Linked DNA regions of Homo sapiens. The protein of the gene in region 1 interacts with the protein of each later gene in a pairwise test. Each region holds a gene or a part of one and is shown in the gene's direction. Other genes may lie near its edges.

Evidence for each region. The genes of interacting proteins can lie anywhere in the genome.
Region 2: the proteins of DNM2 (region 1) and DCLRE1B interact in binary tests that used the Homo sapiens proteins (3 or more experiments, as listed by UniProt).

Annotation. Positions count from the first base shown.
Region 1 is NC_000019.10:10,826,079-10,829,240, forward strand, and holds part of DNM2 (dynamin-2), read left to right. Parts: intron 1-2,894; exon of another isoform or gene 2,895-2,957; coding exon 2,958-3,162. UniProt on the Homo sapiens protein: Catalyzes the hydrolysis of GTP and utilizes this energy to mediate vesicle scission at plasma membrane during endocytosis and filament remodeling at many actin structures during organization of the actin cytoskeleton.
Region 2 is NC_000001.11:113,908,326-113,911,455, forward strand, and holds part of DCLRE1B (5' exonuclease Apollo), read left to right. Parts: intron 1-2,805; coding exon 2,806-3,130.

The DNA of each region.
Region 1 (3,162 bases):
CACCAGAATCTGCACGGCCATCCTCTTTGGGAAACCCTAGGGTTTCCGAGCCACACTGGGTCCATAGTCCCATCAAGTCCACTAACTGGAGTGAACACTGCAGGTGTGCGCCTTCTCTGAATTAACTTAGGCTGGCATCAGAATAACTGCAGGAGGGAGAACGGCCATCTTCCCCATTTCACAGACAGAAAACAAGGCCAGAGAGATCAAGTAACCTGCCCCAAGTTCCTTAGGAAAGTGGGAAGTGGGATTCAAACCCACGTTTACCCTGGTTGCAACCATACCCTTGGGTTGTGTTGGGCAGCCGCTGTGTCCTAATGATCTGGGGCCCAGCCTCTTCCTCATGGGCGTCACCCGCCTGGCCCCGGGTTCCCTGGAGACTCTCAGGGCTCTGGGCTCCTCTTCAGTGAAATGCAGCTGTACTGATAGTATCTCCAGCTCAGGCTGCTAGAGGGCTCAGGGCACTTGTGTATCAGGCCTTTGGCATGGCACTAGCCACTCAGGAAGCTTTATAAACCAGCTTTGGGGCCGGAGCAGTGGCTCATGCCTGTAATCCCAGCACTTTGGGAGGCTGAGGAGGGAGGATCACTTGAGCCCAGGAGCTGAAGACCAGCCTGGGCAACATAGCCATACCCCAGTCTCTACAAAAAATTTAAAAATTAGCTGGGCGTGGTGGCAAATGCCTGTAGTCCCAGCTACTCAGAAGACCGAGGTAAGAGCATCACTTGAGCCCAGGAGGTTGAGGCTGCAGTGAGCCATGATTACGCCACTGCTCTCCAGCCTGGGTGATGGAGCAGGAACCTCTTTCAAAAAAAAAGTGTCTTGGGTTTTGTATATGAATGTCAACCACAGAAACCTGCGGATCTAAGTAAAACTCCCACACAGGGTGTGGCTGGGCATGGTGGCTCACATCTGTACTCCCAGCACTTTGGGAGGCTTGGCAGGAGGATCACTCGATCCCAGGAGTTCAAGACCAGCCTGGACAACATAGTGAGACCCCATCCCTATTTAAAACACACACACACCTCCCACGTGCCATGCCCTCCCACCCTGTTGCTCCCATTCTCAGTAGTGATCAGTGTTCACAGTTTCATGGTGTCCTGGTATGTTTCCTCATATACCGATAGGATCGGAGACATATACGGTTCTTCTGCTATGAAATTTAAAATGCATATATCCTTTGACCCTGCAAGTTTACTTTTAGGAACTTCTCTAAGAGAGACAATTGCCCACGTGCAAAGTGAGCTTATACATGCTTATTGTTTTCCATGATGTTTTATAGCAGCCAAAGATGGGACATAATTATCCATTTTTAATAGACTCTTATAAAATAAAAATATTTTATTATTTAAGAAAATAATAAATCTGTCGGCCCAGCTACTCGGGAAGCTGAGGCAGGAAGATCACTTGAGCCCAGGAGATCGAGGCTGCGGTGAGCAAAGATCGCTCCACTGCATTCCAGCCTGAGTGATAGGAGTGAGACCCTATCTAAAAAAAAAAAAAGTTGTGACGGCCAGGTGTGGTGGCTCATGCCTGTAATCCCAGCACTTTGGGAGGCTGAGGCGGGCACATCACGAGGTCAAGAGACTGAGACCATCCTGGCCAACATGCTGAAACCCCCCTCTACTAAAAATACAAAAATTAGCTGGGCGTGGTGGCACGCGTCTGTAGTCCCAGCTACTCTGGAGGCTGAGGCAGGAGAATCACTTGAACCTAGGAGGTGGAGTTTGCAATGAGCGGAGATCATGCCACTGTACTCCAGCCTGGTGACAGAGGGAGACTCTGTCTCAAAAAAAAAGAAAAAAAAAAGTAACTGAAAAACTTCTGTATCCAGTAGGAGGTTCCAGAAAGGACAATGTATAAAATTCATGAACAGAAACTAGTAGTGTTTGAACAGAAGCCAGGTGGAAGATGTAACAGGATTAGCCGGGCGCAGTGGCTCACTCACGCCTGTAATCCCAGCACTTTGGGAGGCCAAGGCGGGTGGATCACCTGAGGTCAGGAGTTAAAGACCAGCCTGGCCAATATGGTGAAACCCCATCTCTGCTAAAAATACAAAAATTAGCCGGGGGTTGGGGGGCACGCCTGTAGTCCCAGCTACTTGGGAGGTTGAGGCACAAGAATTGCTTGGACCCAGGAGACGCAGGTTGCAGTGAGCCAAGATTGCACTGCAGCCTGGGTGACAGAGTGAGACTCTGTCACAAAAAAATAAAGATATAACAGGATTGGCTGGGCGCGGTGGCTCACGCCTGTAATCCCAGCACTTTGGGAGGCTGAGGCAGGCGGATCATAAGGTCAGGAGATCGAGACCATCCTGGCTAACAGGGTGAAACCCTGTCTCTACTAAAAATACAAAAAATAAGCTGGGCGTGGTGGCAGGCGCCTGTAGTCCCAGCTACTTGGGAGACTGAGGCAGGAGAATGGCATAAACCCGGGAGGCGGAGGTTGCAGTGAGCTGAGATTGCACCACTGCACTCCAACCTGGGCGACAGTGAGACTGTCTCAAAAAAAAAAAAGCAAAAACAAAAAAGATATAACAGGATTATTCTGCCAAGGTTAAGGAAATAAATAAATAAGCTAAAACAGGAGAAAAGACATCAATGGAAGAGGCAAGATACTAGAAATAAGTTGAATAAGAATCTCATAACCAGCCTGGGCCACATGGTGGAACCCTATCTCTAAAAAAATTACAAAACTTAGCCAAGCATGGTGTCAACGTGCCTGTCGTCCTAGCTACTTGGGAGGCTGAGGCAGGATAATTACTTGAACCCGGGAGGCGGAGGTTGCAGTGAGCTGAAATTGAGCCACTGTACTCCAGCCTGGGTGACAGAGCAAGACTCTTTTTCAAAAAAGTCTGGGGGTGGCCCCGCCCTGTGAGAGATGTTTTTCCAGCAGTCACTGTGGGTTCTGGGTTGGGGTGATACACAAGCCTGACCCTCCCCAACCCCTGCCCGCAGACGAAGGCCTTCATCCACCACGAGCTGCTGGCCTACCTATACTCCTCGGCAGACCAGAGCAGCCTCATGGAGGAGTCGGCTGACCAGGCACAGCGGCGGGACGACATGCTGCGCATGTACCATGCCCTCAAGGAGGCGCTCAACATCATCGGTGACATCAGCACCAGCACTGTGTCCACGCCTGTACCCCCGCCTGTCGATGACA
Region 2 (3,130 bases), on another chromosome or scaffold:
GGCTAGGTGTGGTGGTTCATGCCTATAATCCCAGCACTTTGGGAGGCCAAGATGGGAGGGTCATTTGAGCCCAGGCGTTTGAGACCAGCTTGGGCAACATGGCAAGACCCTGTCTCTACAAAAAATTTAAAAATCAGTTGGGCACGATGGTGCGTGCCTGTGGTCCCAGCTACACAGGGGACTGAGACAGGAGGATTGCCTGGGTCCAGTAGGAGGTCAAGGTTGCAGTGAGCCATGTAAGTGCCATTGCACTCCAGCCTGGATGACAGAGCAAGACCCTGTCTCAATAAATGAATGAATGAATGAAATAAGTAAAACTGCAACCTGCCCACCATCCCCATTCCCAACTCCTGATCATCCATACCAATTCATTTTTTTCATTTTTTTATAGCACTCATATACTATATATATTTTTAAATATGCTATTGCTTACTTGTTGTCTATCATGCACTTCCTCTGGCCCATGCACATACGCGTGCACACACACACACACACAAGCATAAACTCCTTAAGAGCATCACTGGAAATGGGAAGAGACTTTGTGTGTTTGTGGAACAGAGAAGCAGCAGTCAGTATGACAGGCACACAGTGGGCAAGGAGGCTGAAAAGGCAAGAGGGGCTGAAGTGCTGTTAAGCCATTTTGGACTTGATCCTAAACCCAACCAAGAGCTATTGAAGGATTTTAAGTAGAAGAGGGACAATATGCACTCATCACCTTGCAATATATTCTATAATTTATGTATTTATTGGACTTTTTATTGTCTGATTCCCCCTGCTAGAATGTGAATTCCACTATGGCAGTCTCTGTTTTATTATGGGTGTATCACAAATGCCTACACTAATGCCTGACACAGAAGCATTCAATATGAATGAATGAAATTTATCAGAACATAGATATTTAAGTGAGCGTTGTGCTTTAAATTAAGTATACTGAAAAAACAGGTTTGTGCTTGTTGTACTGATTATAAATAGTATAAAACATTGTTGAGGACTCTTTCTTGGAGTTGCCATTTGGAATAGTTTATGAAAATACATTTTTGTTTTATAAAATAAATAAATGTAATAGATTTGGTTCTAAATTACTTTTTTGGTTGTTTCCAAATTTGTGAGTCTACAAAAGGACAAAGACTTGCCACCATTATAAATATTTGAAAAGGACATGTCTCAACTCTGAAAGGAGTTTCAAAATGAGACTAAACAAAGGCATTGAAAAAATTATATAACTTCCAGGGTGACTACCAAATCGATTGAGAAATATCCTCTACTCTCAGGATTGCTTAGCTACTTATAAAGACCTAACCATTCTTAATATTTTAATGCAGAATTTTCTCAAAAAAGCAAAGCTGGCTAGGAGGATGCTATAGTAAGCCTTAATTAATTTTGCAAATATGTAATAAGCCTCTACCCACTAAGTACCAAGTATCCAATAGGCAGTGGGGATATAAAGATGAATAAAATATAGTCTCTGACTTGGAGGGCTCACAGTCTGGTAGGGAAGGACCTGTGGGGAGGTGGAAGTGGGAATATATATAGAGAGAAGAAAAATCCGCTCCATTTGTGCCCAAGGAGTGAGATTTTGAACCATAATCAGGAATAAAGTGGATATAAATAATATATACTTCTTTTTATGGCGTTCACAATCTGGTTGTGGATTTGAAACTTCTTCAGAAAAAGTCTGAGAACAGCTATTAAACAACATCTCCCATATCTGTTACCATAACCATTTCCCAAATTAATGTCTCCATTTCTTTCTCTGTAAGTACTATTTGGGCCCTTCAATTGAAACTTCCACTCCAGCTTCTTCTCATCCTGGCAGTCAAATAATATTATTACCATATTTTTCTTTTTAAAGCCCTGCTCTGAGCATATTATTCTTATGATTAGAATTAGCCATTTTCCTGCTTCACACTCAGTGGCTCCCCTTCACTTACACAATGAAGTCCAAGCTTCTTAGCGGTACATATAAGACGCTCTATTATATGGCCCTTGCTTGCCTCTCTGGTATCATTTCTTATCAATTCCTTTTTTACTTTAGTAACAGCAAACTGACCCCTCTTAAAATGTTTTCCACTATACCCTTTCTACCCTTTCCTTGCCAGGTTAACCTTGCCCATCCTTTAAGATTTAGCCTAACGTTCCCTAACTCCATCACCTGTTAGATACAATACTGTATACTTTTTTTGTTTTTTTTTAAGAGACAGGGTCTCACTCTGTTGCCCAGGCTGGAGGGTAGTGGCATGATCACAGCTCACTGCAGCCTGGACCTCCCGGACTCAAGTGATCCTCCCGCGTCAGCTTCCTGTGTACCAGGAACTATAGGCGTGCACCAACATGCTTATTTGTTTATTTTTGTAGAGACAGGGTCTTGCCAGGTTGCCCAGGTTGGTCTTGAACTCCTGGGCTCAAGCAATCCTCCTGCCTCAGCCTCCTAAAATTGTAGGCTTACAGGTGTGAGCCACAGTGCCCGGCCTGTACACATATCTTTAACGTTGCTCTTAATTGTGGTTTTTCTGGGTCTCCTTGTAGATAGTACTTCTTGAGGACTGACAGTTTTCTTTATTAGTTTTCATGGTGCCTGAAACTTGCTAGATGCTCTCTTTTGTTGAACTAAATGAATGAGTGGATTCTGTGTCATTCCCTTTCATATGTCTTAGCTCAAATGCCACCTCTTCCTTGATATTCTCCCTGGATTTCTCCATGAATTGTATCTATTTTTGTTAAACATTTTGTTGATTTATTAGGATTTTCCAATAGCTTAATTTTCTTCCTTCTCTTACTTTCCCCAATACATTGAACATTATTTAGGACTCTACAGCCTGGGAAAGGAATCACTGCTGGAGCAGCTGGCCCTGGAGTTTCAGACCTGGGTGGTATTGAGTCCTCGGCGCCTGGAGTTGGTACAGCTACTGGGCCTGGCAGATGTGTTCACAGTGGAGGAGAAGGCTGGCCGCATCCATGCAGTAGACCATATGGAGATCTGCCATTCCAACATGCTGCGTTGGAACCAGACCCACCCTACGATTGCTATCCTTCCCACAAGCCGAAAAATCCACAGCTCCCACCCTGATATCCACGTCATCCCTTACTCTGACCATTCCTCTTACTCCGAGCTTCGTGCCTTTGTCGCAGC